Linked DNA regions of Homo sapiens: regions 2 and 3 are each linked to region 1. Evidence: fine-mapped expression QTL. A gene starts in region 1. Each other region holds a variant in brackets. All regions are shown on one strand. Distances are from middle to middle.

What was found. PIP is the estimated chance that this variant, and not a neighbour inherited with it, causes the effect. A credible set is the group of variants that fine-mapping cannot tell apart.
Region 2: its variant is the best candidate, but not a certain one, in a credible set for the expression of MIER3 in esophagus mucosa (GTEx, PIP 0.52).
Region 3: its variant is the best candidate, but not a certain one, in a credible set for the expression of MIER3 in whole blood (INTERVAL, PIP 0.54).

What each region holds. Positions count from the first base shown.
Region 1 is chr5:56,947,900-56,958,647 of GRCh38, reverse strand. It overlaps MIER3 (MIER family member 3), which reads left to right and starts at 6,525. Exons shown (of 13, transcript NM_001297599.2): 1 at 6,525-6,554; 2 at 7,996-8,020. The coding sequence starts at 6,546. RefSeq lists silencers at 6,244-6,663, 6,694-6,803, 6,864-7,033 and an enhancer at 7,604-7,693.
Region 2 is chr5:57,259,237-57,269,984 of GRCh38, reverse strand. It overlaps GPBP1 (GC-rich promoter binding protein 1), which reads right to left. Exons shown (of 12, transcript NM_022913.4): 11 at 8,703-8,805; 12 at 5,312-7,391. The coding sequence ends at 7,233. Among named protein-coding and RNA genes, the nearest start is that of GPBP1, 91 kb to the right of the region's middle. The variant A/G (reference allele first, on the strand shown) is at 5,774.
Region 3 is chr5:56,913,559-56,924,306 of GRCh38, reverse strand. SETD9 (SET domain containing 9) reads right to left here. Exons shown (of 6, transcript NM_153706.4): 4 at 10,318-10,433; 5 at 9,341-9,446; 6 at 6,959-7,492. The coding sequence ends at 7,405. It overlaps MIER3 (MIER family member 3), which reads left to right. Exons shown (of 13, transcript NM_001297599.2): 11 at 265-392; 12 at 474-616; 13 at 722-4,704. The coding sequence ends at 1,179. Among named protein-coding and RNA genes, the nearest start is that of SETD9, 9.3 kb to the right of the region's middle. The variant C/T (reference allele first, on the strand shown) is at 4,931.

The sequences.
Region 1 (10,748 bases):
AGGCCATAGTTTTGAAATGTTTTCGGACTTTCACATTTCCATGAACACTGGATAGAAGCCACAAATAAATATCCTTACATGATTTCTCTTGTAATATTAATATTTTTCCACTTCTTATAAAAAATAAAATGATAGGCCAACTCCTGGACTGATGATCTTTAGCAGCAGCATATTCCTTTTACTATCATCCAATACATGTATATAAGAAAAGTTTGAACATAAATACAATTAATGAAGTATTTCTGAATTTTTACTCATAATTCTTTTTATTCCAAAGCAAATATCAGATGTTCAGCAATACCAGATTCAAAAGCAAATACTGCACACATGTTGTCTTAGTCTGCATGGGCTTCCATAAAAAAAAAAAATCACAAACTGAGTGACTTAAACAACAGACATTTATTTTCTCATAGTTCTGGAGGCGAGAAGTTCATGATCAAGGTCCGGCAGAGTCAGTTTCTGGTGAGGGTTCTTTTCCTGGCTTGCAGACAGTTGTCTTCTCACCGTGTCCTCACACAGGTTTTCCTTGATGCATGTACGCAGAGAAAGAGAGAGAGAGAGGGAGAATGTGCACCTGTGAGAGAGCAAGCTTTCTAGTGTCCCTTCTTATAAGGACACTAATCCTATTGGACCAAGGTCACCCTTTTCCTGCTCTGCTCTGGCCCCTGGCATCCTGGAAAGCCTGTCTAAACTTCAGAGTTAATGGCAGGTGTTGTTTGCAGTACTCAAGAAGCAGTGGGCAAGGTCAGAGAACATCTGGGAAAGGCAAGTTCAAGGTGCTGCAGGTTTGCACAGTTAAGCCCCCAAAGTACCAGCTACCACTTAGGAGGGAGCTGAGAGCCAGAAAACAAAGACAACCCAGGAAGCAGGGGCCAAGAAAGTGGCCAAAGTTTGAATATAATGAGAGCAGCAAAGTCCAAGAAGGTAGCATGGGGATCTTAATTACTTCCTTAGAGGCCCCATCTCCAAATATAGCCACACTGGGGGTTAGGGCTTCTACATATGAATTTGGGGAGAACATAAATATTCAGTCCGTAACACTTGTTTACCAAAGAAATACCATGCCTTTTATCATATTCTTTGCAATATACATAACATTACTTGTAGCCACATGCTACATTGTATTATAACAAGCTAAGTGATGAACTGCGTATTGATTACTCTTTTTATAACTTATAAAATGAAAAAATTAATTCGGTTAGATCTGACATCATTTTAATCTTGAATTGCATGCTTTTAGTAATCTATCTTATAATACGTTTTGTAATTTATTTCTCAGTGGTTTAAAATATATCTCAAAATAAGAATTAATAGGCTTCTTAGAACTGAAAAATGAAATCAGACTTTTCAAGTCAGACTTGGCAGTTTGGTTTGACAAAAGGGACAGCGTTTGCTTGTTAGGTTATGTGGCAGACATTTTCCACAAGTGAAAGATTTAGGGCTCCAGTCCAAGGTTTTGACAAAAATGTATTTAAAACGTGTGATAAGATATAAACATTTTATTTAACAAAACTGTATTTGTAAGAGAGTCTTAAAATTAACACTGCTCCCATTTTCCTTCCCTTTTCTGAGCCTGTTGAGTTAAATAATTGCCTCTACGTGAAACAGTACAATTAACAGTCATTTGATAAGTCTTGGCAAAGGCTTTTTTGGTAATCTTCATCAAAATTGAAGTGAATTATAGTGATGAGCTATAATAGCTTTGTAAAAAATCCTCTTTCAAGTCAGGTAGCTTTTAACTCTTAGCTTTCAACAAAGTTGAAGGAACACATTTAAAACATCAGCGTATAGATCATTAAAAATAATGTTTGATAGAAGATCATAACATGATGTATTACTAAGGAGATATTACTAAGGAGATCAACAAATTGAGTGATGGTTTAGTAACAAAACCCTTCCATTTCTATCTATTTGTGTATGAATATGGTTTCTCAAACCTTACTTCTGTATAAATAAAGACTAAGAATAAAATTGATGTTAAACTCCCATTCTAGCATTAAGTAATATTCATCCATGGGTACATGAATTAATTTTTAAAGATCCTATTCATCTTATCAATAGATTGATTTCCAATGCAATTTTTGTTCAAAAAGCTTTACTCAAAACTTGTAATACATGTATATTGCTTAGATCAAATGTAAATTAGTAGTAATTGTACTGATAATTCAATCTGGAGGAAAATTATTTCTCTTTACTATCAATTTACAAGGATATTTTTGTTGCAGATAAAGATTGTAGGGTATCAACAAAAGACTTCTAAGCATAAAGCATATTACACTTCTTTGGAGAAAGTAGAATGGGAATATGAGTTCAAGGAGAAAAAGGAATCATGTAAAATTTCATACCATTCAAGAAACATGTTTATGTCTTTTTAAAAGAATAATGAAATATCAAATTGTTATGGTATTTAGATTCCATTGCATACATTTTAAGTGTTATATAATGGCTTTATTTTTAAATGACCATCATTACGAAAGGTAAGTACATCCTTTGCAGCCATTTAAATTTATAATGACAAAATTAGAAGTCAATTGGAATACATAAGAAGGGATAGAGTTATTACAAATTCTTTTGAGGATGTTCCTGCAATTTAAAGTCATTGACTTGGAAGTTCCAATTGGGTATGCTTGCACAGCTATGTCAGCCTGATGCATCCATCTCATTTTAAGAATGGCCCTGACTCACAGGCTGGATATATGTTCATGTATATGGACCAAGTTCCCTTCTTAGAAACGAACTGAAACCTTTTTTGAACTGTGAGAACTCTCTCTTTTTTAAAGTTACCATGCAGATCATCTTTCTTTTGTTAAGAATCTTTTGTTTAGGCAAAACTTACTATGATCAGTTAGCTTTCTCAGAGAGTGGCCATTCATTCCAACAAAAAATATTTAATTGAATATCACGCAGGAGAAGTAGATAAATTTAGAAAAATGCAAGTAGTTTGGCCTGATGCTGGGTCTAACTGTTGGCATTACAGTCTTACAAGCTATGCTGAGAAGTAACGCTAAGATGATGTTCTAGATCAGGTTCGCAAACTGGAAGCTCCCAGGCTAAATATGATTTACTTAACATGATTTATTTGATCTACACTGTGTTTAAATTTTTAAAAAATTAGTTGACAAAATTTTACGACCAGGAGATATAACATAAAAATTCAGTTTTCCAGCTGTTCTTGGAAAATTGAAACTGGAAACATTGGGCCAGTAAGCTGAAACTGACCCAAGTAGTGCATAGTGGTTTCCATCTTTAAGTAGGACACGTCTCCAAATTTGCTATTACTCCTGCGTTTGTCTACACTAGCCTGCTTCACTCATTCATTATGCCTGCCTGACTACTATGGGCATTTGAGATTGAGACATTAACTTTGGTTTATTAGTTTCCCATGGGTTAGATGGAATCTGCAGAAGCCTAAATATCTATGTTGCATTACTGTGGCCCCATTAACTGCTTTCAGTAGGTCATTCATATTGTGCTCTCAACTTTCATAGACAGTTACCAAAAGAATTTGTATATTTCTCCTACATTTGTATGCTTCTCCAATGAGAAGCAAGCAACTGATTACATTCACCTTTTTTGCTTTGGCTGCCAGAAAGCTCTACATTTATGGCTTAACTATTGTATTGTGTTAATACCTCATAACCTGCAGATCCTTGTCCTTACTTTTTCTTTGGTGTTAACCTCCTAGTCTAGTTAGTTTCGTTGGTCCTCATTTTTTTATATATGTTTTTTTATTTTATTGTATGAATTTACTGGAAGCCTCTAAAATTACATGTTTATAAATAAAGCTGTATTGATTTATTTCCTTTCTAAAGATGGTTGGAGGATCTATGACATTTTGGTTCTCCTTAGGAGGTTACTATGGTTTTTAGTTTTCCTTGCTCACATATCCATTTACCACCTATGGAAATTACTTAGATTGTAAGCTTTTGGGGGACAAGGACATTTTTATGGTGGTCCCACAGTGCCCAGCATCTAGCACTTTCTATATAATGCCCTGTATTGCATAGTTACAGGATAATAAAAGTAAAAAGTAATAGTATTTTAATTTAAACTCCTTGGGTCACAAGGATTTTTAATCTGTACTGACTCATGAAAGTCTTGTCAATCAGAAAGAATGAGAGCTCCATCTACATATAGACTTTACACACTTTATCATAAAGGAATGTGTTATGTAAGACTGAGTGATAAACTTTCTCTAGTGATCAGGTGGGGGAAAGTAGCTCTGCTACCTTCAACTGCTAATAAATTTAGCTTCATTTATCTTTGTCTGAATCCTTATTTAATACCATGGACTCAGACTTCCTACACTACGTTCTATAATAGGGAGCATATAACAATCAAAATTACAAATGCCTATACAAAATCTTTACAATTGAATATAAAGAAAGTCTACAGAAACATTACTAGATTCATGAAAGTGAATAAATCTGTGTATATTTCAGTTATGGCAAAACATATAATCTAAGACTACATTTATAGTTTGGATTAGCCAAGTTTGCTGGGAAGAAAATGTTTTTCCCAGTGTAATGTATGAGGCAGGTTGTTGGAGACACTTTCTTCACGTGGCTCAGACTGCGGTCCAGCTGCTCAGGGCACTGTTTCATGGTTCTGTCCACAGCGCGTGCTCACTGCGTCATTTCTAAAGTTATTCACTTGTACTTAATTTCAAGCCATTTTTTTTTACTTTGAAAACTCTGAACGCCTCATTGAGGACAGTACATACAATGTGTGCCAAGGTCTGGTTTCAAAGTTTAGCTGTTTTTGAGTTATTTGACTGGACAAAAGGTCGAAAGATATCTTTCACAGCAGGGAAAGTGTAATTTTCCATGTCTTTATGATGTTTAGAAATAGTTGGAGTGATTTTTCCCTAAAATTTCCATAAGTAAATAACTTTTACCCGTGGCATAAGCTTGATTTTGAGATGCCTTGGCAAAAAATTTGAAAATAACCCTCTCCCTACCTCCAGTCTCCAGCCTCATCCTCAGTATGCACTCCAGCAATAAGGGAATTGGAGGGACCCCAGGTTAAAATCAAGACCTTTCATGTTTGGATTAAAAGTATGACGTATGGAAAGTTTTAGCTTCTAAAAACTTGTCTTTATCATTTAATATTACGTATGTTTTAGAAAAAAGCTGGGAGAAGAGCTCTGGTGTCTGAGATCACTCTCTCCAAATTCCTGTAGGGTCCTGCTATAATTCCTGATGGTATTTGCATCTCACTTATTCATGTACCTTACAGCCGACTTTCTTTTCCACAGATAGAATTGGCCTCCCACTTTAGGACAATGTGTCCTCCAAATTTGCTAGGGCAACTCCATACCTTACTTTAACTTCTTGCAGGACCTAACTCTCCAATCAGTCGTTAGTGTATATTTTTGTGTACTTGGCTCAAAGTCTTTCAGTGTGGATGTGGACCTTCCGGAGAGTAATCTCCTCCAATGAAGAGCAAATGGTCATAAGGAACATGTACGAGCAGGTATTCCTGTTAAGCCTTATGCTCCGTCTTTCACCCATCCACTTGCACAGGGGACTAGTTTCCTTTTATGATCCTACCCAAACGTTTGGCCTTTTTGGAGAAGTGAGGGAAGTGAGGGGTAGAATTTTTGAGACTCAGTTCAGGGCCTTTGATATGCTGTTCCTGTCCTTCAACAGATGTATCAAGTATCTCTGGGTCATCCCCTAAGACACGTTGGTGATGAACAATTCCTAGAACTGGTCTAATTTTTTTTTTTTTTTTTTTGGATAACAGCACAGTTTATATTTTTTGGGCATCTTCTTGAACTGTACAAGTATATTCAGCATCATTTCTCTGCCCTGTCGATCTTTTGTCTTTTCTTCTGTGCTGTCAATAACCTGTTTGGCAAATGTCTACTTCCATTGTCCACTCCGTGAGCAGTGTACACCGGTCTCCATCTCCCATTCCTGCAGGTCCCTTCGTGGAAACGGCAAAGTGCCTGACTGTAGTCCTCTCATTCTGGACTGACTCTGCCATCCACCAGCCTCTTCTCCCATTTCCCAGGGCTTCCTCCCACATCTGTCTATTTCATAGATCGCCTCCTCCTCTTAGGGAAGTTGAGTCTGTCGAGTTCCCCTGCACATCGCCTGCCAGTCCAAGTCTCCTGCCCGCCTCCCGCACGCCCTCCCGCGCCGCGGTGTCTGTGGGTCGGTTCCCAGACGCGCCCGCCGGCTCTTGGGCCTCCACTGGCTGGACGTGGGTCTGTCCCGCGCCCGCGCGTCCGTCCGTCCCCCACTTGCCTCCAATTCGGCAGGAACTTTACACCAGCCAGGAGGAGAAGGACGGTGCGCGCGGGTGCGGGTCTGGCCGGCTGGGGCCGGCGCGGGGGCGGCGAGGGGCGCCGGGCGGCGTCGGCTTGCGAGCGGGCCGGGGGCGTCGCGGGCCGCCCTGCCCTATAAGGGGCCGTGCCGCCTCCGCCGCCGGGCGGGTGCCGGGCGGACCGCGGCGGTGGCGGCGGCGGCTGCGATTGGCTCAGGCGCCCCATCCGGGGACTGGGCTCGGCGCTGCTCGTTCGCCCTAAAGGTACCAATATGGCGGAGGTGAGCAGGGAAACCGGGCAGGAGCAGCCGGGCTGGAGCGGGCGCCCGGCGGCTCCCCGCGACCCCCGAGCCAGCCTGGGGGATCCGGGGCTCTTTCCGCTGCCCCATGAGGGGCGGCGTGGCGACGCGGGGGTCGCGGGGCGGCGACTGGCCGTGGCGGGGCTGGCCGGGGGGCGGGAGCGGGCGCGGGAGCGGTCTCCCTCCGGGACTAGGCCGCGGCGGCTCCGGCCCCGGTCGGGCCGGGCGACCGAGCCGGACGGAGGTGGCGGCCGGCTGCAGTGAGCCCTGCCCCAGGGACGAGGCAGTGCCGTGTCCCCGGTCGCTGACGCGGGCCGCCGGCGCCTCCGCGCCTCTTCCCCGGGCCCGGGTGGGTGGAAACCGGCGGAGCCCCCCCTCCGCGGCCGGATCGCAAAGAGGGGAGCGGGCTGCGCCACTGCCCTGCGGGAGTCGTGCGCTGTGCCCCCGGCCCACCGGGCCCGGGCTGCGGCGCGAAGGAGCCGCACGCTTCACTTTGCTGGGGGCGCGGAGAAGAGCGGGATGCGGGGCCACCGGGCTTCTCAGAAGAGCGGGACTCCCCACCCCGCAGCCCGGGAGGTGCGGGAGCCCCTGGGGTTAAAGGGCAGACCGAGACCCTCGACGCCCTCTCCAGGAGAGCGGCTTGATAGCTCCAGTTTTCTCTGGGCTGGAGGAAGGAAGGCTGGGCGAGCGAAGCTGCCCCGGCCATGTCCCCCGGGACTGGTGAGCTGGGGGGAGGGGGCGGTGTGGCAGGAGCCCCTGGGCTGGAGCTCGCTGGGGCGGGGGGCGCGCTGACGGTCCAGGGAGGGACTGAACACTCTGGAAGGAGCCAGCATCCCTGGAACTGAGAGGAGCTGCATCTCTGGACTCGAGAGAGAGGATGGGGGGCTCGCGCTTTGGTTTGGGGGCGAGTGTCCGATTCGAGCTGGCCTACGCTGCAGGGGAAGAGATCGGCTTCGGAGTTGGGGCTCCCGGGCCCCAGGGGCGAACTAGGTGCTCAGAACGCGAGTTCGTTCCAGAAAAGGGTGTTACGTTTCGAGTTGTTTGGGGCTTCGGAGAGCCGGGTGGGATTTGGAGGACTCCGGAGATGCCAGGGATGGGGGACTGATGGTGCCAGCCGACTGCTCTGGGTTTTGCTTCTCTGCTTGGAAACTTGCTGAGCTCCAAGAAGCGACTTGGAGTTGCCTCTCAGACTCCGGGCTTCGTCCCGGGTCTGTGAGTTTGTACACTTGGGACTCGGGGAGGAAGGCGAGGCAGCCAAGAGGGGGCCCGAAAGGGGCCGGGAGCGATTCGAGTGAAGCTACGTCTTGCACTTTTGGCAGCTGCGGAGGAGCGCTCGACTCCGCCTCCTCTGCGCCCTGTTGCCGGCGCTGCCTCTTTCCCTGGCTGTGCGATCTAACCTCACGTTTTCTTCTCTCTCTCCTAGGCTTCTTTTGGAAGTTCGAGCCCAGGTTTGTCCTATTTTCTTACGTCTTCGGTGGTTCCCAGTGGGTAATGTGGGCTCAAAGGTCTGTTGCTAAAGGATTCCCAATAGAAATGTATCCTGCAGGTTTTTCTTCATTGATTTTTAAGAGTTTCAGTGTGCATTTAGTAAAGTTTGGGGAAGAAACAGTTATACTGTTCTTTGTTTTCTCTTGCATGTTGAAAAAGTAACTGTTACAAAGTTGCTAAGACAAGCGTTCTTTTAAGGAATATGGCTTTAATTATTACATATCTTATTTTTCCTCCGAGCCTGAAACAGTTAATCCCAAATTAACTTGACACCAACTTTAGCAATTTAGATTTTAACTTCGGTTTCTTCTAGAGATTGAGTAATTTGTCAGAACTCTGGGACTACTTCACTAACTGTAACCCCTCATCTCCTCTTACGTTGTTTCTTTTTCATAATTAAATGTCTATGAGTTGTGTTAAAATTGGAAGTTGAGAGGTAAAGCTACCTTAATAAAAAAGACAGAACTTCCAAGTTTGGCACAGAAAAAGGGTGATTTTGACTTCTGAGCTGAGACGATCTTAGGTCATCTAGTACAGTGTTTCTTAACTTTCCTGAGGTCAGAAACCCCTGTCAGGATCTAATGAAAGCAAGGGATGTGTCCCAGAACTCTGCACATATGCATAATTACACACAATCTGGGGTTTGTAGAATCCCTGTAGCAGGTCCATAAGGACCTTTCCTCATGTGCTAATCATGTAAGGTATCTTTGTTTCAGTTTCTCATTTCCTTTCTAGCTTACCTCTTTGCTGTCTTCCCTCTCCTAGTCTACAGGAAAAGCACCTCTGAACTAGTCCAACTCCATTATTTTACAGTTGAGGAGACTTTTAAATAACTTTCGTTAGTGGTGGAGCACAGATGAGCTCCTAAATCTTCCATTACAACTTGTTTCCATAGAGTGAATAGTCAGTTTCCTTACACTATTACTTTTTGTATCTGCTCCACCTTCAGAGCCTCACTTGACTGTCATTTAAGGTATTATAACACCAAGTAGAAGAAATTTGCAGCTATTTTAAAAATAGCTGTCTATATCTTTAAAATTCTAAAAATTTTTGTTAATTTTGAGATGAACTTTTTTGTTATAACTGATTTTAGGAAAATATATACATGATGTCAAACAGCTGGATTAATGGAATTTTTCCATTTGGTATCACTGACTTCTTTTAAGAAGTTGCACTCTAAATAAGCCAAAAGACAGTGTAACCTGTTTTTAATCAATTAGCCTCTTTTTGTTTTTTGTTTGTTTGTTTGAGACGTTATGCAGGCTGGAGTGCAATGGGGCAATCTCACTGTAACCTCCGCCTTTGAGGTTCAAGCTGTTCTCCTGCCTCAGCCTCCCAGGTGGCTGGTACTACAGGGATGCGCCACCACACCTGGCTGATTTTTTTGTATTTTTAGTAGAGATGGGGTTTCACCATGCTGGCTAGGCTGATCTTGAACTCCTGACCTCAAGTGATCCGCCTGCCTCGGCCTCCCAAAGTGCTGGGATTAATTAGCCAGTTTTTTAAAAAGAGAATTTTAGAGTTGGAAGGGACTTTTGAGGTCCTTTCAGTCATCCCCATGTATTTTGCAAATGGAAGACAGGAGCTAGACCTAGAAAGTTTAAATGACTTCCTTTAGGTCCCAAAAAGCCAAGGACAAAGCTGGGAGTAGACCCTCAGGTCCTTCGATTTTTGACCCTTACTGAATACCTTCCATGTTAAAGGGGAGGCCTGTTGTGCCAAGTGATAGAAGAGTAACAGAAGAGCCCAGAGGAGCTCTGCTACCAAAGAGGTGAAAGAGTCAGCATCTATTTCATTTCTGCCTCTTTGGCATACCATGGAACTTGCCAAGAATTCCTCAAAAAAAGAAAATTTGTAATGGTGGATGTGAGCTAATTAATAAATATTCTTATTTCTTTTTTGTTGTTTTTTTGTTTTTTGAGATGGAGTCTTGCTCCATTGCTCAGGCTGGAGTGCAGTGGTGTGATCTTGGCTCACTACAGCCTCGACCTCCCAGGTTCAAGCGATTCTCCTGCCTCAGCCTCCCACGTAGCTGGTGGTATTACAGGTGCCCACCACCATGCCCGGCTAATTTTTTTGTATTGTTAGTAGAGACAGGGTTTCGCTATGTTGACCAGGCTGGTCTGGAACTCCTGACCTCAGGTGATCCCCCCACTTCGGCCTCCCAAAGTGCTGGGATTACAGGCATGAGCCACCACCCCGGCCTATATTTCTTTTTAAATTAAACCACATGTAAATCAACAAGTTTTTAAATGAGCAGATATTTTTCAACATTAAGGAAGATAACATAATGTAAACCTGCCAAAAAATAAAGTCCTGTAGAAATTGTATTTTTAGAACTAATTAGAGTTCTCTGAACCCAGAATCAAAAATAATGAATTATGTGTGTGGTTTTTCCATAGTGAAAAATCTTTGGCCCAGTTCAGTGTTTTGGTAATGATCTCACACTGTCCTGAAATGTTTGAAATTTTAAAATATTCAGTAGCTTGACTAAGAACAGATTAAACTTTTTATGTTGAGTATGCTTCCATCCACTTCTTCCTTCCCCCAACCTCAGTTTCTGATACTTTCCTTCCTTGCTCTGAGGGTTACGGGTCTAATTGAATTGGATACTAGAGTAAAACAAGTGGAGAAAATCCTGTTTTTTTATAAATTTGATTTCATTTCTTTGGGATTATGGATTTTAGT
Region 2 (10,748 bases), 310 kb before region 1:
AAGAAATTACCTCACTTTTGGAGGAGAAAGGGAAGCAGGTCTATCCTTTGAAAACTATCTCCATGTTTCACAAGTTTTCCCACTTTCTCTGTAAAAGTCTCTATATTGCACTGATAAATTTGTACTTCTTTCCTTGTGATTTAGGACACACTATATTTTATCCTGTGTGGACACATTACAATCATGTTTTACAAACGGGAAACAATTGTCTTAAAAGTTAAGCTTCCTTACATTCAGAATGTCTGTATTAAAAGAAAAAAAAAAGTTAGGCTTTCAAATATTGCCCCAGAACTGGGCAGGACAGGGGGAAGCATTTTGCAAGACTGAAAAATCACACAGGTAATGGTATAAAGATCAAATATGACAACCCAACTTTCACTTTCCTTGAGTTTCCAAAGGCCTAGTTTTTAATGTTTATAATGAGGATCAGCAAACTACTGTCCCTACCCAGCTTGTTTTATTGGAAAAGACACACCTACCTGTTTACTGTCTGCGGCTGCATTGGTACTATTAATTGAGTAATTGGAACAAAAATCACATGGTCCAAAATATTTACCATCTAGCCCTTTACAGAAAAAGTTTGCCAACATTCGGTTTAGAAAATAATCTTCAAAAAAGAAATTTCAGACATCTTAATAGATGGCATGAGTCTCTATGTCTCTATGTGGGGATACAGAATTGCCTAGACTCACTTTCTCAGTAGCCAGGTTCTTCTCATTCTGTCAAATGACTCACTCTAATAGTCAATAAACCAAAATAACTTTTCAAAAGCTAAACAATGTCAGGACATTAAGTCCAAATTTGAGGGAGAAAATATCTCTTCACCTCACCAAGTCAACTTCTCGTAACGCAACTGTACCTGCTTATTACAGTATACAGATTGACATTTCATTGTTTTCCCTTCTGCTAGTTTTTGCTTCTCTCCAGCCATTAAAGAAAATCACATTAGGGTCGGGCGGAGTAGCTCACGTCTGTAATCTTAGCATTTTGGGAGGCTGAGGTGGACAGATCACTTGAGGCCAGGAGTTCGAGACCAGCCTGGCCAACATGGCAATACCCCCATTTCTATTAAAAATACAAAAATTAGCCAGGTGTGGTGGCACATGCCTGTAATCCCAGCTACTCGGGAGGCTGAGGAGTAAGAATCACCTGAACCCGGGAGGCGGAGATTGCAGTGAGCCACGTTCATGCCACTGTGCTCCATCCTGAGCAACAGAGTGAAACTGTCTCAAAAAAAAAAAAAAATTCAAATGGCATTAAGGCTACAACAAAATTATATTCCCTAGTGAGGAAAGGTACATTCTGGCATCTAAGTAAAAATTACATACATAATAATACACAAAAGCTGACACAAACATACAATCTCATTTTCTCAAGATATTAATGTCTACCAGACAACTAGTTTTAGCATATCAAGTGCCCAATTTTAAAAAGGTTAAGTAACTGAAGTAAGGCAAAAGAGTTATATACTCTTGCCAGACACGGTGGCTCATGCCTGTAATCCCAGCATTTTTGGATGCTGAGACAGGAGAATTGCTTGAGCCCAGGACCGTTTGAGACCAGCCTGGGCAATGTAGCAAGACCCTGTCTCTTTAATAAAATTAAAAAGTGAGGGGAAAAAGTTATATACTGTTGTCACAATTCTCCAGCCCATTATCTTTGTTCACCTTTAGCATTCCAGAAAATGAGGGAAAACCTTGAGAGAAATGGAGTATGAGTATCAAGTTAAACTCTTGCCTAATAATGTGCTTAACTACCTTATTTCCACAAAAAGCATAAAGTGATGAGACTAGCAAAGGCAATTCTATTTTGAAAGATTTGAAAGCATGGAAACCCATTCTTGCAATTAGTTCACAGGACTATAATTTACCATTAAAGTTCAATGATTACATTTCAGATCTCTGATAAAACTCATTTTAACAGCTGAATAAAATCAAGCTTAGGTCATAACTGAGCGTAATGCCAAACAAAGCAGACGTAAAACAGTTGTAATTTACTGTGAGAACTCAAACAGATGTTTCACACTATTTACAACCACTTAGAATAGTACCTATTTAACAACAGCTAATTTTTTAAAAATAGGTACTGCCTGCTACTGGGAAAGGTCCAGTTGAATTGTCACTAGTAGCAAATTAGCTAAATTTATGGAACACCTACTGTGAACCAGGATTTACACCAGGTGCTTTTCATTATTGTTTTCATCCTCACAATAACACTATCGAATAGATATTAAGTTGCCTATCTGGATTAAAGTCACAGCTAAAGCTGTGCGCAGCAGCTCACGCCTGTAATCCCAGCACTTTGGGAGGCCAAGGTGGGCGGATCACGTGAGGCCAAGTTTGAGACCAACCTGGCCAACATGGCAAAACCCTGTCTCTACTAAAAGTACAAAACTTAGCTGGGCATGGTGGTCACTCCTATAATCCCAACTACTTGAAAGGCTGAAGCATGAGAATTGCTTGAACCTACAAAGCAGAAGTTGCATTGAGGAGACATCATGCCACTGCACTCTAGCCTGGGTGACAGAGCAAAACTCTGTCTTCAAAAAATAAAAAATAAAAAAAGGCACAAATAAAAAGGGGGAAAAAAAATGTAGTTTCAAACCCAGGTGTGACTACTTCCACCATACTGTATGTTAATACATTATAACTGGTTGCTGGACGCGGTGTCTCATGCCTGTAAATCCCAGCACTATGGGAGGCATAGGCAGGAGGATCACTTGAGGTCAGGAGTTCGAGACCAACCTGTCCAACGTGGCGAAATTCCATCTCTAAAAATATGAAATTTAGCCGGGCATGGTGGTGCGCACCTGTAACCCCAGCTACTTGGGAGGCTGAGACATGAGAATCACTCAAACCCAGGAGACAGAGGTTGCACTGAGCCAAGATCACGCCACTTACACTCCAACCTGGGTGACAGAGTAAGGCTCTGTCTCAAAAAATAAAAAAAAAGAATGGGTTTTGGGGGCAGGATTTTTAAATATTCTAAAGCCCAGGCCACGCCCCAGTCTAATTAAACCACAATCTGGGGTGTTGGTGGGGGATGGTGGACACATTGGGGAAGCTCCCCAATGATACCAATGGTGTAGATAAGTTTGGGCCCCACCACTACACATGCTCTTACATATTGCAAGTTAGGACACTGCTGCATGGAACATGCTTCAGCAGTGTCCTTCAACCAGACCTAATGATATAATACATTGTACCTTCAATCACTATGCCAGAGTAGTTCTACAAAACGAATCCATATGGGTAGGCAGAATGAACTTAAAGTTAACTGTACAACTGAACAAAAATTCACAATTACAAAACCTCTTAATTACAACACATTCTCAAGTCCTAAACTACGAATGTTTCAGGTCCACGTGTCCCATAACTATATATATATAGTTTTATATATATATAGTCTTATATATAGTTTTACATAGTTTTATAGTTTTTATATAGTTATATATGTAGTTATATAGTTATATATATATAGTTATACAGTTATATATATCAAGAGTCTCGCTGTCACCCAGGCTGGAGTGCAGTGGTACAATCATGGCTTATGGCCTCCGCCTCCCAGGTTCAAGCAATTCTCCTGTCTCAGCCTCCCAAGTAGCTGGGATCAGAGGCATGCACCACCACACCCAGCTAATTTTTGTATTTTTAGTACAGACTGGGTCAGATGGGGTTTCACCATGTTGGCCAGGGTGGTCTTGAACTCCTGACCTCAGGTGATCCTCCCGCCTCAGCCTCCCAAAGTGCTGGGATTACAGGCGTGAGCCACCATGCCCAGCCCCATAGTTAAATATTAAAACAATCACAGCTGTCCTCTGAGTCCCATCGTTTTAAGTGCAAGCATTCAGCCCTGCCTAAAGAAAGGAAATATTAAGTAGCAAAACAAAAACCAGAATCTGAAGCATCTCTGCGGCATCTGGAGGCTTTCACGGATTTTTCTATTGCTTGATATGTCCTGTCGTTCCCCTAACAGCCAAATAACTTTTATAACCTCAGGAAACTTAACTATCTAAAAGTTAAAATATCCAACTCTTAGTGATAATCATTTAAAAGCCCTAGTAACACATCCCTTATTGTGTAAGCCAAAATAAAAATCTCACTTTATAGAAATATTTCACAAGTGTGTATCCTTTCTACCCTAGTTATCATTTTTTTTTTATTTTGAGACGTAGTCTCACTCTGTTGCCCAGGCTGGAGCACAATGGCACGATCTCAACTCACTGCAACCTCCGACTCCTGGGTTCAAGCGATTCTCCTGCCTCAATATCCTATGAGTAGCTGGAATTACAGGTGTATGCCCCCACGCCCGGCTAATTTTTGTATTTTTTTTTTTTTAAGTAGAGACAGGGTTTCACCACGTTGGCCCAGGCTGGTCTCTAACTCCTGACCTCAGGTGATCTGCTGACCTTGGCCTCCCAAAGTCCTGGGATTACAGGTATGAGCTACCGCACCCAGTCTACCCTCATCATCTAGATTCAACTTAGTTTGCATGATTATGGAGCATGTATTTAGACTCCAGTATCAGATTAGGGATGATGACGGATGGGGTGTTAAAACAAGTTATTTAACAGATTCCTAAATTTAAAAGGTTTATATAACCACATTCTAACAGTATACATAAACACTAGCAAAAAAGGACAAAGTATTTTGGGGGAACCAGATCCTTTAACATACTGAATTCTGTTAATATAAATCTGATTAAGTCAAGCTGATTTTAGATTAACAATTTCAATAGAAATTATCTGCAGAAATATTCTAATCCTTATACTAAAATCAAGCAAATAGTTTTTGAAATGCTATTTTAAGTCATTACCTTAAGAATTTTGCTCATTAATTACATTTTATACCAAAATAAAATGAGAGGGGGGTGGAGAATTAGTGACAGGGACTTAAAAGGAACCAAGAAATTCGGGGGAATAATAGATTATGTTCACTTAGTTGTAGGTCAAAACACTGTAAACTGTATGTTTTACCTGTGTGTTCAAGTCAATTTATACCTCAATAAAGTGTTAAAAATAAAAAAGCTGCCAAAAAAATGAGTTTGAAACAGCCATATTTGCTTTTCAGACTTCCATGGCCTAGTTCTGAGTTCAGCAATTCCACATTAGATCTATAACTAGTTTCTGTGCTTGTAGGCTCTCTTTAAAACAATATGGTCCAAGCTGTTTTATCAGCTGCCCATTATTTAGACACCAAGCTAAAACTATGTTACACTTTTAACTGTTCTCTTAAATTACATGTATGGCTCCAACCCCTCATAACCAAGCTTATTAATGTCATTAACTTAATGCATAGAATAACCATACCACTGTACTTTACCATATTTATAAGGAGTAAATTACTAAACACATTCCATATCACAATGCATGAAAGCACAATAAACATGAGTTAACTGCTGGTAAATGGGAATTAAGGCAGAAAAAACTGAGTATAAGAAAGATGCCAAAAACCAAAACTACAGAATCTTTTCTGAAAGTAGAAAACACAGTAAGGTGGATCTCAAATGTAAACCACATTCCTCAGGTTCCTTCTAGCTTGTTTTTGGAAATACAGGTTGTATCTGATAAATTTCATTAATCTATTAAGCAAATAGTACAATCTAAGAGTCTCAAAGACATTCAATATGTGTTACCGATAGCTTCGTCAAAGCATGCTTTACATTCTCCTGTGGCTAATTCTAACTACATTTAACTTTAGCTGATTAGATTGAATTGTGACAAATTATATAGTGAAACCTTATTTTAAGTATAAGGTCTATTTAATATTTTATT[A/G]CCATTCTAACTCTTCCTCAAGTTTTGTGGGAGTGTGCTAGTGTGTTGTTTTTAATTTCCCCATCACCATCAGTCTCAGTGGGAACAACAACAAAAAAAAATAACAGTTTCTGGTGAAAACTGGGGAGTCCAGGTAGGGTATTTATGCAGAAATAGCAAAAACACTGCAGCCATCTGAGAAAACACTTTTTAAAAAACAACAAACACTTAAGATTAGATCTGACATAAAACCTCAAGTATTTTTGCTCTAAGATTATGCTCTTTACATAAGTTAGAATATATTTAAACATAAGGGGGAGCTAAAAGCAAATGGGGGTAAACAAACCAGAAAAATCAAAATACAAATATACACAGAGCCAAAATAGTATTTCCGTCAGCAGCAAAACAGAAACAATTCCAAAATTAATGTGCAAATGAAAATAAAGTAGTTAACAGTCATTCATTTAATAAGCTTGTGTATTTGATAATGAAAACGCTTAGCTTTCCTTTTCTGACCTCGGAAAAGTAATCACCATCTTTAGTAAGGTATTACTTTTAAAAGTATGACTTTAACAAGTGAATAAAGCATGTTTAGAGTATGTTTATGTTTAGAAACAATACCTTGAACACTACAGAAAACAACAATATTCTGAAAATCCAGTTTATTTTCCATGTCGTGGACAGATCCAGTCAGTGTGATCAGTTTTTCTGCGTGTGTAATAATTTATCAAAATAAGTTTTCTCACAAGACTCTTTTCCATCAACTCTGAAAACCCTGGTCTGACAACATACCCCAATAAAGCTTTTGAAAATCACCTCTTAAAATTTGGAAGAAAATGTGCCAAGTCTTTTCCTGTAACATTTACTGCACTACAAATGGCTAAAGAGCAATTTATGGTTTAAAAGGTGAATAGTACAACAGGTGAGTTCAGGAAATTGTTTTAGTGCACTTTGCTCCAGTTTTAGCCAACATGCTACATTTTCCTTTTTGGTTTTTGTTTTGTTGTTGTTGTTTTTTGGGGGAAGGAGAGGGAGACCGCACAAAGTGGACTTGAGGATTTCCATTGTACGAAAAAGATATGACTCTGCAAGCAAAACAGTGTAAGCTGCCTTTTTTCTTAAGACCTGGACATTTTAAGACAGAAGCTTTGCAAAACATTACACAATTTTTTATTATTAAATGAGAAAATCTCATTTGTTACATCGTCACATTGCTAGTCAGAGAAATGTTGCAGTGATGAAGAAAGTCAATGTTGGACCAACCCAAGTCCTCATTCCTACAACATTCATTTACAAAGAAATAATGTTCAACACAGCCCAACAAAACATTCTTGGTTTTCTTCATATTGAAGTCCCCCAAAAAATCCTCTTCTAATGGGGTATTTCACTACATAAATTATAGTTCTTCATTTTTACAATTCACCCCAAACTGTATGAGAGATGTATCACACTAAGATTTCTAAAGCTGTTAGGAAATCCTTCACACATCGTCGTCATCTGATGTATCACTGCTACTTGTCTCTGTGTCATCATTCTCAGTTGTGGGTTTGAAAGTGCTGTTCTTCCACGGTCCAAACTTGAAGTCACAGATCAAGCCATTTTTCAAAATACCATTTTTTCTCAGACCATTCTTCTGTAACTAAAATGTTAACAGCAAAATAAATAAATTATCCCTCAAGAGTTACAAACCTACTGTAATAATATAAGCATGAATATAATAAAATTGTATCCTAACCCAAAAACTACACAAGTAATGATATTTCTGAAAAAATTCTGGATCCAGACAAAGTAGATGTGAGTAATAATTGTCACACTGATTAAGGTACTAAACTTTCCCACATTTTTATTGCCTCAAGTGACAACTGTAATAAATACCTTCAGGGACTTACCAGAATATAATCAGAAACCATTAAGCTGTATCTGTTATTTTTATTATTCTGACCTAAATTAATACACCCCCCAATCTGCTTTGTTCATAGTTTGTAAAGTAGAATGAGGTATATAAAGTTACAAAATTGTCTCGTTTAACCGGAGATGAAGATACTAGAAAAAATACAGTTCTCTATTTCTGAAAATGAGAAATCATAACTAAAAGGTTGGTAATAAATAAGAATTGAGTCAAAACATCATCAAAGAAGAAAAAAGATAGTTGGCCCAAATTAGAAACAATTTAAAGACAGAAAATAAGCCCAGTGTAGTGGCACAAGCCAGTAGCCCCAGCTGCTCAGGAAGCTGAGGCAAGAGTATTGCTTGAGCCCAGAAATTTGGGGATGCAGTGAGCTATGACCAGCCACTGCACTCCAGCCTAGATGACAGAGTGAGACCCCAACTCTTTAAATAAACAAATAATCGATTTGAAAAAAAGCATCTCAACTTCCTGATGCTCTAACAAAAATTCCCTAATACTCTTTCAGAAAGGTAACTAGGGAGACATTAAGCAAGATGTTTTAGAATATGAAATACTCTTGTGCAAGAAAAGGATAAAAGATGAAGTTACTTAGGAAGCTACTAACACTCTCTACTTCTTATCACTCTTGCTCCTCCCCCAGAAAAGCCAAAAACAAAAACAAAAAACAAAACAAAAAAGGTCTGGAAAATGACTAATCCATAGACATCACTTACACTAATTCCTAACTATTGCACACCCAATAGTTTAAATAAGTCACTATTGCAGACTTCTATAAAGTCAATTCAACCAGGTGCAGTGGTTCCTGCCTGTAGTCCCAGTTACTCCAGAGGCTAAGGTTGGAGGATCACCTGGCACCCAGGAGTTCTAGAGGCCAGCTGGACACCATAGCAAAAGCCTGTCCTCCCTCTTTTTTTTTTTAAAAGCAATTCTGACCTATCGTGATAAATTCCTAAATCTCCCCCACTCCATGCTTACATATAATTATATTGTTCTAAATAAGGGCAGTTTAAAAGTGAAGTTGTATGATTCAGGTTTTCTTACCTGTTCACTAATAACTTGGAATTCTCTCATTTCATCCTCAGTTAAGGGAGCACATGTTTCATCATTTTCACTGTCTTCCTGCCAGCCCATTTCCTTTAACAATCTGAAAAGGAGAGGAAATTAAGTTTAATGTAAAGCTTACCCTGAGTAGGACAGTATCATTTACATTATGTATAAGAAAACATGATCCACCAGGATCCATTATACAAAGACCCCAAGACACATCAAAAGGATTTTTGAGCTCAGGCTTTGAGTATCTTTCTGAAAATGAATAAACAGGTAAGATTAATAAACTGATATTAAAATTAGAATGAACTCCTTGACTGCTTAATCCTTGGTGTCAAAGGCTCTTCAGGCTGGAAACTTTTAACAGATGTGAAGCAAATCTGCTAAATTCTTATACTAAAAGTAACAGCAATATCACTCCTCTTTTTCTTCAGTACCACCATATTTCTGACTACTCATTAGGTTTTCTACTTGGGCAGTCATGAACACTGCATCAATAGCTACTTCATTTGATCAGGAAACCTCCAAGCTTGTTTCTTATATGGCCACATATCTTGTATTGATATGAAAGGGTTTGTTTTTAAAAAATGAAACCCCTAAGTACTTCTGTTACTCCTACAAGGAGTCTTCAAAAAGTTCATAAAAAATGTGTATCATGGAAAAACTATGCAAGAATTTCAAGAAAAAAATTCTGCACCAAAATAAACTTGTGCTAACTTGTGATAACATGTTTCAACAGAATCTTGTTTAAGGCACCACAAAGGTAAGACATCAGTTTGCGAAAAGCCCCTATCAGATCAACATGAATTCTGCTAAAATCGAAGCAAGAACAAATACCAAATTTATGGTGAAACTTGGGTGGAAGAATAATGAAATCACTGATGCTTTACGAAAAGTTTATGGGGACAATACCCCAAGGAAACAAGAAATTTCAAATAGATAACTCATTTTAAGAAAAGATGAGGTGATTCTGAAGATGAAGCCCTCACAGAAGCAGCAGCAGATCATCCCCATCAATTGACAAGGAAAAAATTAATCTTGTTAGTGCCCTAACTGAAGAGGACTGACGATTAACAACAGAAATAGCCAATACCACAGACAAGACATCTCACTTGGTTCAGCTTACATGATTCTGAATGAAAAATTAAAGTTGAATAATTTCCACTCAATGTGTGCCCACATCATCTGCAGACAAAAATAGAGCTTTCAATGGAAAGTTTAAACAAGTGGGATCAAGATTCTGAAGCATTTCTTCAAAGAACTGCACATGGCTTTACCAGTATGATCCAGAAGACAAATCACAATCAAAGCACTAGCTACCAAGAAGTGGAAGGGATCCACTCAAAGCAAAAGAGGACCAGTCAAGAGCAAAGGTCATGGCAACAGTTGTTTGGAAGGGATAAAGAACAGTAACATCTGCTTATTATGAGAGTGTTTTGAGAAGGAAAGCTAAAGCTTTAGCAGAAAAATGCCTGGGAAAGCTTTAGCAGAAAAATGCCTGGGAAAGCTTCACCAGAGAGTCCTTAACCACAATACTCCTGCTCATTCCTCTCATCAAACAAGGGCACCTTTGCAAAGTTTCAATGGGAAATCATTAGGCATCCACCTTTCAGTCCTGATTTGGCTCCTTCTGACTTCATTTCCTAATCTTAAATTTTAGAGGGGGCCCATTTTTCTTCAGTTAATGTAAAAAAGACAGCACTGACACGGTTAAACTGCCAGGGCCCTCAGTTCTTCAGGGATGGTCTAAATGACTGCTATCATTGCTTACAAAAGGGTCTTGAACTTGATGGAGTTATGTTGAAAAACAGAGTTAATAGTTTTTATCATTTAATTACATTGTTCCACAAACGTTTAAGTCCCCTCTTATTTACACCTACTCATCTTTTAACTTGCACCTGCTACACAATAGCTGCTTATAGACTTTTAGACCTTTTTTCAGAGTCTCACAGAATATCTGAGACCTTGAATAAAACATAACATGATATCCACATTTTACACATGAACAATCAAGATCATATAAGTAAAATAACTTGCTTA
Region 3 (10,748 bases), 34 kb after region 1:
GGATACACACTTGTTTTATAAACTAATACATTCTGATTTTTTTAAAAAAAAAACCTTGGGCTTTCGAAAATGGCCTCATTATTAAATGTAAAGGCATTCCACTAATCAAAGTGTTCAGAACTTTATAATTTATTAAAAGTGTTCAGAACTATATAATGGGAAAATAAGACCCATGGATTGAAGTTGTAGTGTTGTGGAAAAGAAAAGTTGCTTAAAAAAATGGTTGAGTTTGTTGGTTTTTTAAAAATTCAACTTTTTCATTAGGTGAGAACTAGGACAGTTGCTGAGTGTGTAGCATTCTACTATATGTGGAAGAAATCTGAACGTTATGATTACTTTGCTCAACAGACAAGATTTGGGAAAAAAAGATATAACCATCACCCTGGAGTTACGTAAGTACTGTGGCCTTGCCTTCAAAGACTTACTTTTAACTGTAATATATAGTCATAAAATTACTGGGGTGTGTTTTTCAGGGACTATATGGATCGTTTAGTAGATGAAACAGAAGCTTTGGGTGGGACGGTAAATGCTTCAGCCTTAACTTCTAACCGGCCTGAGCCTATTCCTGATCAACAGCTAAACATTCTCAACTCCTTCACTGCCAGTGACTTGACAGGTAAAATGAAGACCTTTCTGCATTTAGTACAGTTTGTTGCAAAATTGTGTCCTCTGTTTGATGTCATAGGACCACTTACTTAAACAATTTTCCATTCCTTTTTAGCTTTGACCAACAGTGTAGCAACCGTCTGCGACCCCACAGATGTGAATTGTTTGGATGATAGCTTTCCTCCACTGGGCAACACACCCCGTGGACAAGTTAATCATGTGCCTGTTGTAACAGAAGAGTTACTCACCCTGCCCAGCAATGGGGAAAGTGATTGTTTTAATTTATTTGAGACTGGATTTTATCACTCGGAGCTAAACCCTATGAACATGTGCAGTGAAGAGTCAGAGAGACCAGCAAAAAGATTGAAAATGGGCATTGCCGTCCCTGAATCCTTTATGAATGAAGTTTCTGTAAATAACCTGGGTGTGGACTTTGAAAATCACACACATCACATCACCAGTGCCAAAATGGCTGTTTCTGTGGCTGACTTTGGCAGTCTCTCTGCCAACGAGACCAATGGTTTCATCAGTGCCCATGCTCTGCATCAGCACGCGGCCCTACACTCTGAGTGACCTGAGTGAGGATCCCGGAACTGCGTGTGCAGCACCAGTAAACTTGAGGGGAGCTATCAGGTTTGCATAGTCTTTCACTGGAAGTTTGAACCTTTCTCACTATGACATCAGTGATGTCAGTATGTATAGAACTATATCTTGATTTATCAAGAGTATTTTCATTTTTCAATCCATAAATGTGGAAATGAACTATGATCAGCAGAGTTGGGAACTAAGATTGAACTCTGTGGTGCAGCTTTAAGCTCTGCTTCTCTCTTCCTCATCTCCCAATACCTCTTCCCCACTCCCTTCTTTTTCTATTCTTTTGTGTTCCCCACTGCCCTCACTCCCAATTTTAAAACCTGTAGACAGAGGCCACCAGCTCAAAACCAGCACAGATGTTCTGAACTGAATGGTGTGGCCTGTTTTTGTGTAAATTCCTTTTGCCGTAATGGATGCAGTGGAATAACAATGTTTACAGGTACCGATCCCGATCCCTGCTCAATGTAGCATTTTTTTGGTTTTATTTTCTTAATAAAAGCAGGGGTAGGTTTCTTTAAACTGCACAAACATGCAAGGATTTTTTAAAAATGGAAACTTCTCTCATGTTATTCAACTAGAGCACTTCAGTTTACAAAACAGCAAGTCCATCTTTATGGAAGCCAGCACAAGGAACTGTGTGCAAATAATGAAGACGCTTGCTTGGATCCTGTTTCAAAATTCTAGACCAGGGCTACCTTACACAGAATTGGTCATGTTACTGCCAGGAGATTTCTGTGTAACTTCATTTATTGGCTACAGTTTTGGCATTTGAAGATGTGGTACTCAGATGGGGTTTTGTCCACCATTGTCAAGATTGTAATCTTAAAAATCATACCAGTCATTGATAATTTAGTTTATCCTGAGGCAGTCGACTTGCAGAGGCACAGTCTACAAAGCCTAGGATGTTGCCACTCAATGGTTTACATTTTGGGACATCTTTTAAGTTGTTTGTAGCACTGCAGTTCAAAGTGTTAATATTTAGAGGGACTTCTAGATTTTATACCTAATGCAGTAGAACCTTGAAGTATATTTAAGCTTTTTTGTTAAGCTTGAACAGTTGGCAAGAATAATGTGAGTTCCTATCTGAAATAGAATGGTACATTACCACTTTTAAGTTTTAAAAATTGATAGATGTTCAGATGTATCTCAAACTCAGTTTTATTTTTATTCCAAATATTGTGAATGAGAAGCCATTGTCCTAAACTTTGGCCATTTTTGTGCTATAAACATGCATTTTTAAGTTATAAGGTGAATCAAACAATATGTAATACAGTATTAGGATGTAATCTTTGCTTTTGTAGTACTGTTAAAATAGAGAATTATGTTGTTTGCACCGTCTTAATTAAAATTCTTGATTTTTACTAGTTGCTTTGCAAAAAACAAATGTTTGGCTGCATTGCTAATATTTGTAAGTATAAGTTGCTTCAAGGTTGTGCTGATGAGTAGATAGGATGTAGTGATCTTAGTAGTGATTGAAAGGGAGGGTATTTATTATACAAACTGTGAACTGCAATGACATCCTTAGTTTTGGATGATGTGTATTCTTGTTTTTCTTTGCAGCATTTTAATGAAGATTGCTTTGAAGTGTTTACGCAGTAGCACATTAGTATAAAATTTAGTTTAGCACAGTGGACAAAAAGTAGTTAAATTAATAACTTAAAATCAGTCTCTAATTTATACATCTGAAGTATAGCATTCCTGTATGCACACAGTAAATAATGGGTAGCCTGGGCTCTGTGTTACTTTCTTGTATTTTTATCCAAGTTGTCAGCTTCTTATTGCTGTGTTGTTGTGCTAAACTTTGAACCTTATTTCTTTTATTAAAAATCAGTACACTTTCTATAATTTAGTAAGATACTGGCCATAATCTTCCATTGTTATAACCTTAATTTTCACTCTGGGTTTACAGTGGCTGGTCTGTATAAATAATTTACACAAAGATGACTGAATGCTAATACCAGTTGCACTTAAATGAACATGCCCATTCTCAGTAGCTGATGCAGTAATATATTCAGTTTATCTATGCATTGCTGGGGTCTTGATATAAGATGGAAACAGTGTTTCTTATCTAAAGTTTTGATTATCAGCAAGTTGAATGGACACTTTAGTTATTTAAATAAAGATTTTTGACCAAAATCCAGAAAATGGTATGAGAGAAAAATAAATTCCAGCTAGTTTAATAGATTTTTAAATGTCAATCTGATTTTAGCCTCTTAGAGAGTGCTAACTAGCTGGTAATGTTTACTTTTAATTCCTTGTTAAAATGAGGCAATAATTTGCAAGATTTTTGTATATAAGTGTAAATTCTTCATATCTTTTTAGATCTAATTCAATATTTTCTGACTACTTCTGCCATGTATAATACCATTTTTGTGCATGCTTGATGTGACATTCATAAATTGTACCACTATGACTTTATCCATGTAAAATAGCTATTTATTGAATTTTCTTTTAAAAGCTGGATTTACTGGGTTTTTTTTTTCTCTCAGTTTAAACATCTTAACAGAGAATTTGTTACTGTTTATTAAAAGAATTGCATTTGGAAGCAAGAAAACAACCGGATTTGCAATCATGTGAAGAAACAATAATGCCTTTATTATCAAGTGTTAAGCACAATTCTTATAACAAACTGTGATAAATTCTTTTTGTTTTTTTTTCCTTTGCCCCATTATTTTCTTATGAACAAACCAAAAATTCATGGTGAGCAGTTGCAGTGTTGGCTGATATATCTTTTATGTACAGGGAATTTGAAAAGGACAGTGGATTCATTTAGAAGTGTAACTGGTGCTGTGATTATAGCAATACATTTGTTAGTTGTACTTCATCTTTTTCATGCTAGCTTTTTAAATGTTTAGTTTTCCTCTTGTCATGGTCAGCTGCTGAATTTACTTGAAGGATGTAGAATACTGTTTAAAAAATACTAAAATTTGTACAATTAGATCAAAGAATTGTGCAATCATTTCCTTTTTAATTTTTAAAATGTTGAGGCTCATAAATATTTGAGAACATCAGATCTAATAGAGCATAGTGATACTATTTAATTTAACCAAAGTCTCTAGTGAATATTTCAACTTTGAATGTAAACTAACAAATAAACCTGACCACCAAGGAGATTGTTTGCCCAGAGTTTCAAAGCACATTGTCTACAAATGGAAATTGAAATAATTTATAAAATATTGACGTTACTATGTTTTTTAAAAAGTTCCTAATTTTTTCACTAAATGGAGGAAACTATTAGTTTTATTGTTAAATATGGTAGATATTAATATTCCTCTTAGATGACCAGTGATTCCAATTGTCCCAGTTTGAAATAAGTACCCTGTGAGTATGAGATAAATTAGTGACAATCAGAACAAGTTTCAGTATCAGATGTTCAAGAGGAAGTTGCTATTGCATTGATTTTAATATTTGTACATAAACACTGATTTTTTTGAGCATTATTTTGTATTTGTTGTACTTTAATACCTGGTGTACAGTTCCAGAAATAAAAATCTGGGAATCTTTTTTTCTTGGTTTGTGTGAATATTTGCCAAAAATACAGATATTTTATTTAATGAATCTTAAGCTACAGCAAATAGATAGATATTATACCACTGTTAAATTGGTTTTAGATGCAGTAAATAAGATATATGATAGATAGTGAAGTTGGTAGATTAAATATTTTCCTTAAATCCTCTATAATTTCCATCTATAATAAAAGTCCCCCTGTAATCCCAACACTTTGAGAGGC[C/T]GAGGCGGGCAGATCATGAGGTCAGGAGTTCAAGACCAGCCTGACCAACATAGTGAAACCCCGTCTCTACTAAAAATACAAAAATCAGCCGAGCGAGGTGGCGCATGCCTGTAACCCCAGCTACTCAGGAGGCTGAGGCAGGAAAATTGCTTGAACCCTGGGGGTGGTGGTTGCAGTGAGCTGAGATCCTGCCATTGCACTCCAGCCTGGACAACAGACTGAGACTCCATCTCAAAAAAAAAAAAAAAAAGAAGTCCCAAAGTAAGGATTATACTTTTAGTTTAATTCAGGAAACATTTATTATGTTTCAAACGCTGTTCTAGGTAACTGTCTTTTATGAAGACAGACAGATCTGAAATTTGGTCAAATATTATTATTATTTGACAGACTACATTTATGGTCAACTAGTCTTCCTTATCCATACGATTCATAGTTTGACCGTAGTCATATCTATCTTTCCTAAACATCTTTTTAAGCTAAAGCTCCTATCTTGCCATTATTTCACAAGTTTGTCCCCATATTTCATTTCCTCTGACCAGAGCTTTATGTAGTTCCATTTTTAAGATGCAGTGATCAGCTTGCCCATAATATCCAAAGTTTGTACAAGGCCAAGAAGGGGATAAAAGGAAAGCAAAAATCTTGACTCCTCTGCTTTGGTTACTTGACTAAAACCACATCCCTTCCTTGTCAGACACGAAAGGACCTTAGCACATAGGGCTCTGTGGTGGACACATGCACAGAAGTGCCTTCAGAGCAGGGACAAGCACACATATTCCGAATACAGCAAGAATGCAACAATGTGCCATGTGAGAGCTCAGAGTATTTTCAGGCTTTAGGAGACGGAAAAGCCTGTGGAAGCAGGATAATCTAGTACATCTGTTACTAGAAGTCATTTTGGCCATAATTTCCATCTATGGTACGCTTTTTGAGCTTGCTGGTGGTAAGTGCTAAAGAGAATGAGGAATATGTCAGGGTTGGGAGCAGTGAGGGATTGTAAATTTCAGTGGGGTGATGAGGCAACGCTCCTCACTGAGGTGACAGGAAGGGAGAGAACAAGCTATGTGGCTGTCTGGGGGAAGATGTTTACAGGCAGAGAGAACTAAGTGCAAAAGTCCTTGGTTGGGAATGTGCCTGGCAGGTTTGGGGAGTGGCCAGGAGGCAGGTGTGGGTTGGGATGGAGTGAGCAAGGGGAGAAAGGAGAGGAGCTCTTGAGGTCATGAGCAGGTTATGCATGTGAAGGACTTCAGCATTTACTCCATGATAGGGAGAGGGTTTTGAGCAGACGTATGTCAATACCTGACTTTCATTTAAAAGAATCACACTTGGTGATATGTTCTGTAAGGGGGACAGGAGTGGAAACAAGGAAGGCAATTGAGAGGCTACTGAAATTGCAATAAACTAGGTGAGTAAAGCTGGTGGTAAGGAAGTGAAGGTAATCAGAATCTGGTCATATAGGTTCCATGAATTTTTGAGGGATCCAGTAAAGAACACCCTCCTTCCTATCCAAGTTTGGAACTGAGAGAGCTGGAGTCAGGTCGATGGAGGTCAAAGTAACTATTGCTAATAAAACGGGAAGGTAGCTTCAGGGCTGCAGCCAGGTTGGCCTGCCAATATATTACACCTCTGGACTCACTCTGTCACTGGCTGGGCTGGCTACAGGCTATTCTCTGCACAAGGCAGAGAACTGCCAGGACACATTCTTTCTGCTGGCAGCCAGAGTCCACAGGGAAGGAACTAGAAGGGTATATAGGACATGGGTGCCTAGTTATTCTCCAAACATAATCAGGGAGTCAATCTCCCTCCAGTGGGTGGAGAGAGAGGCTAGGAACATTAACCAGTGGAAGCCCTCCACATGAAGACATGAGACACGGGGAATAAGTGTTCCTCCCACCAACACTATCTTGCACTTTTTTTCCACCTTTTCTTTGGTGTGAAAATGTTCAAAGAGTAAAGAAAATAGTAATAATGACCTCACATTTTCCCCTCAGCCAGCTAGAGCAATCTTTACATTATACATAGACACACCAATTTACTCATGGCAACACAATAGGTATTTTTTACTCAATTCTGTAAAAATAAAGTTTTTACAGAAGTTTGTACACATCAGCAGTACTACAAGAACTGCTGATGCCTGGCTACAATTTTATAAACCACCACAGAGCTTACAAAATAAACAAAAGAAAAATTGAAATTATAAGTTCAAAGAGTAGGTTTTAATTTAATAAGCTATTGTGTATTTAGGTGAAAACCAATTAAACTTGGAATTGCATTACAAATTTGAAATTGTAATGAAGCAAGTAGCTTTTATCATGAAATTGGAACATAAATATAATATCAACAAAAACATAAGAAATTCCTATTCCAATTAAGTCTCAAAATATTTGTTTTACAGGTAGAACTCAGAGAAGTGATTAACAAAAAACACTTAGAATTAATAGCTGAGTAGAAAACCTAATAATTTCTGATTCACAGAGTTAGCTGACAATTGTGTAGTAGTTTGAAAAAAGCTCTTCTCCTTGATTGATGTCCCTAAGTGCGACAAGAACAACACATCGAAGTGGGCTGAAAACAAAAAGATATACAAAAGGTAGAGCATTAACAAATATAAGCTCATATTTTTAATATAACCAAGATGGCTTTTATAGAGGTAACTTTACTCAGGTTCCTTCCATTTTAGTTTATGCATTTGATTTCCATGAGGAAATAGTTCTTATTCCTGATGCAGGTATTCTAAAGAGTATATCTATATCATTTAAAAAATCACAAATCAATGTTTATACAACTGACTACTTCTTCTGAAAACATTGTTTCTAAGTTTAGGCCCCCAAAACTAGTATCACAAAAAGGATTTTAAAATGACATTATAGTTTTTCTTGCATTCATTTGTATCTTATATCCTGAAAAATGAAAACATTACTTAAAATTAGTTGGAGTTTTAAAAAAATGCTTTTTTCTGGACATCATAAAATATTGTTTGTTTTTTTTGAGATGGAATCTCACTCTGTCACCCAGGCTGGTGTGCAGTGGTGTGACCTTGGCTCACTGCAACCTCTGCCTCCCGGGTTCAAGCGATTCTCCTGCCTCAGCCTCCTGAGTAGCTGGGATTACAGGTGCGTGCCACCACGCCTGACTAATTTTTGTATTTTTAGTAGAGATGAGGTTTCACCATGTTGGTCAGGCTGTTCTCAAACTCCTGACCTTGTGATCCGCCCGCCTCGGCCTCCCAAAGTGCTGGGATTACAGGCATGAGCCACCGCACCCAGCCTAGATATTGTTACATATATACATTCAAAGTTCTAATAACATCATGCCCCGGAGTATATGGCTAAGAAAAGCTAATAGTTAAACACACAAACATACACATGCAGAGAAGCAAAAGTTATCAAGTTTTTGGTTTTTGTTTTTTTCCTGTTTTGGGACAGGATCTGGCTCTGTCACCCAGGCTGCAGTGCAGTGGTGCCATCTCAGCTCAATGCAACATACACCTCCCAAGTCAAGGATCCTCCCACCTCAGCTTCCCAAGTAGCTGGGACTACAGGTACACACCACCACACCCAGCTAATTTTTGTATTTTTTGTAGAGAAGGGGTTTTGTCATGTTGTCTGGGCTGGTTTCGAATTCCTGTGCTCAAGCAATCCACCCACCTTGGCCTCCCAAAGTGCTGAGATTACAGGCTTGAGGTACCGTGTCTGGCCTCAAGTTTTAAGTATAAATAATAGTTCATGTTTTAAATGTCATTCATCTTAGAAGGACAATTTAATAGGTCCTATATAAAATAAAGTTTGCTAGCAACTCAACAAAATAATACAAAGATTGTATCTTCCTACAGCACTGTTAAGAAAGAACTCTTAGCTCTCCAGAATTACCTATATTTTAAAATTGTTATTTGAATATTCTCAGTAGACTTTCCACTGAATGAACAGGAAATAAATGCTATGTTAAAATATGTGTCTTCTGAATACAGTCCTTTTTTATTTAGTTTCATTATTAAGAACCTAATAGTGAAATTGGCAAAGGAATCATAGTGTAATTTGGCCTCTTTCTTCAATTGGATGCTTTCTTATAAGGTAGAGAACATGATATTATAAATGATTAAAGTAAAGATATATTTGAAGATTTTGTAGGTAGGAAAAACAACAGAATTATTTGAAAAAACTTTAAGGTGGATACTTATGAAGTATTGCCATAGAATAAAAATGGGTAAAAATAAACAGAATGAGCTAGTTTAAAGGAAAATTTTAAATTTCAAATAAGCCTACATTAACACGTTAAGGTGTGAACATAAAAATCTGAGTTATAATTTTTCACTAAAAAAAAAATTTTACCCCAAATTCTACATAGCTTTTTCTTCTATATTTTTTTAAGTACAGCATAAGCAGAAGATATGAAATGCTCTTTTAGCAAACGAACCTTTGTTTGTCATAGCTGTAGGCAATGTTTGGAAGATACTGCTTCAGTTCTATAGGGAAAACTGCAGGCACATCAAATTCCTGATAACAGACATTAGCTGCTCTGTCTAGGAACAAGCACATCATTTTTAGAAAAAGAGCCATTATACAAGGTCATGGAAAACAGAATTGAATTATGACACTCAATGTCTGTTTTTCTAAATTATCAAAACATGATCAAAATAATTACTACTATGTTCCAGGTACTGTCAGAGTTTATTTACGTATATATATTTGCAGATATATATGGTAAATCATAAATATATAAAATAAAATATTCAAAAAGACATATATAAAACATGTTTTATTACTTTTTGCATAAACAACATATATAATAACATATGTTTAGATAATATCTACCAACATACATAATAAACATATATGTATGTTTTATTGTTTACTTTTTATATATCAGGAAATAGAGGCTCAGAAATGTTAAAGGTTAAATACTAATAAAAGAGTCAGGCTTGGACTTCGTTTCTCACTAACGCCAAAGCCCATGTTAAATGTATTCAAACAATCAAACTTTTACCTATGGGAAAGTCAACTCCTAAAGAAGATATAGATAGGGACTCACAAACTTAGCAACAGAAAGCAGATACTAGTCTAGCCATTAATCTATAAGGCTATATTGAAGCACTGACATAATAATTTCTATTTTTAAAATGCTAAAATAATAATGATCAAAGGGGAGTTATCAATTGCCTATATTCACTGCAAAATCAGAAGAAAAATAGTAAATTAAACAATTCTAAATAATGTATATCAAGATTTCCCCTAATTCTCTCTAATATCATCCCCCAAAAGTGAGAGTTGCTTAAGGACTTGACTAGCTTATTATATGTTATACTCAACTGCCCTTGGCACTCAGTCATATGACAAAGGAGTAGAATTAGCCATTGATATATCTCATCTCACAGCCCCATGATGCCTTCTTACCATTGGAACAATTGTTGACATACTGTCCCACAGCCAGAGGGTTATGAATTTCTGACGTTAGCCATGTACTATCACTCATTTTTAAAGGGCCGAGTCGATCCCTCCCATTGCAAGATCTGAAACAAGTGAAAGCATTAGCTAATGGATCTGTATCTTAAAATAGAATCCTAAAATACAAAACCCTAGAATTACACCAGTGCATTTTTTCTTAAAAAAAAAAAAAAAAGACTTTAGTATAATCAGTAGGGCAACTGAGTTGTTACACAGCAGCTATCTAAACAGAATTTTATTCAAAGTATAAATGCTGGCCAGGCGCAGTGGCTCACGCCTGTAATCCCAATACTTTGGGAGGCTGAGGCAGGCAGATCACTTGAGGTCTAGAGTTCGAGACCAGCCTGGCCAACATGGTGAAACCCCAACTCTACTAAAAA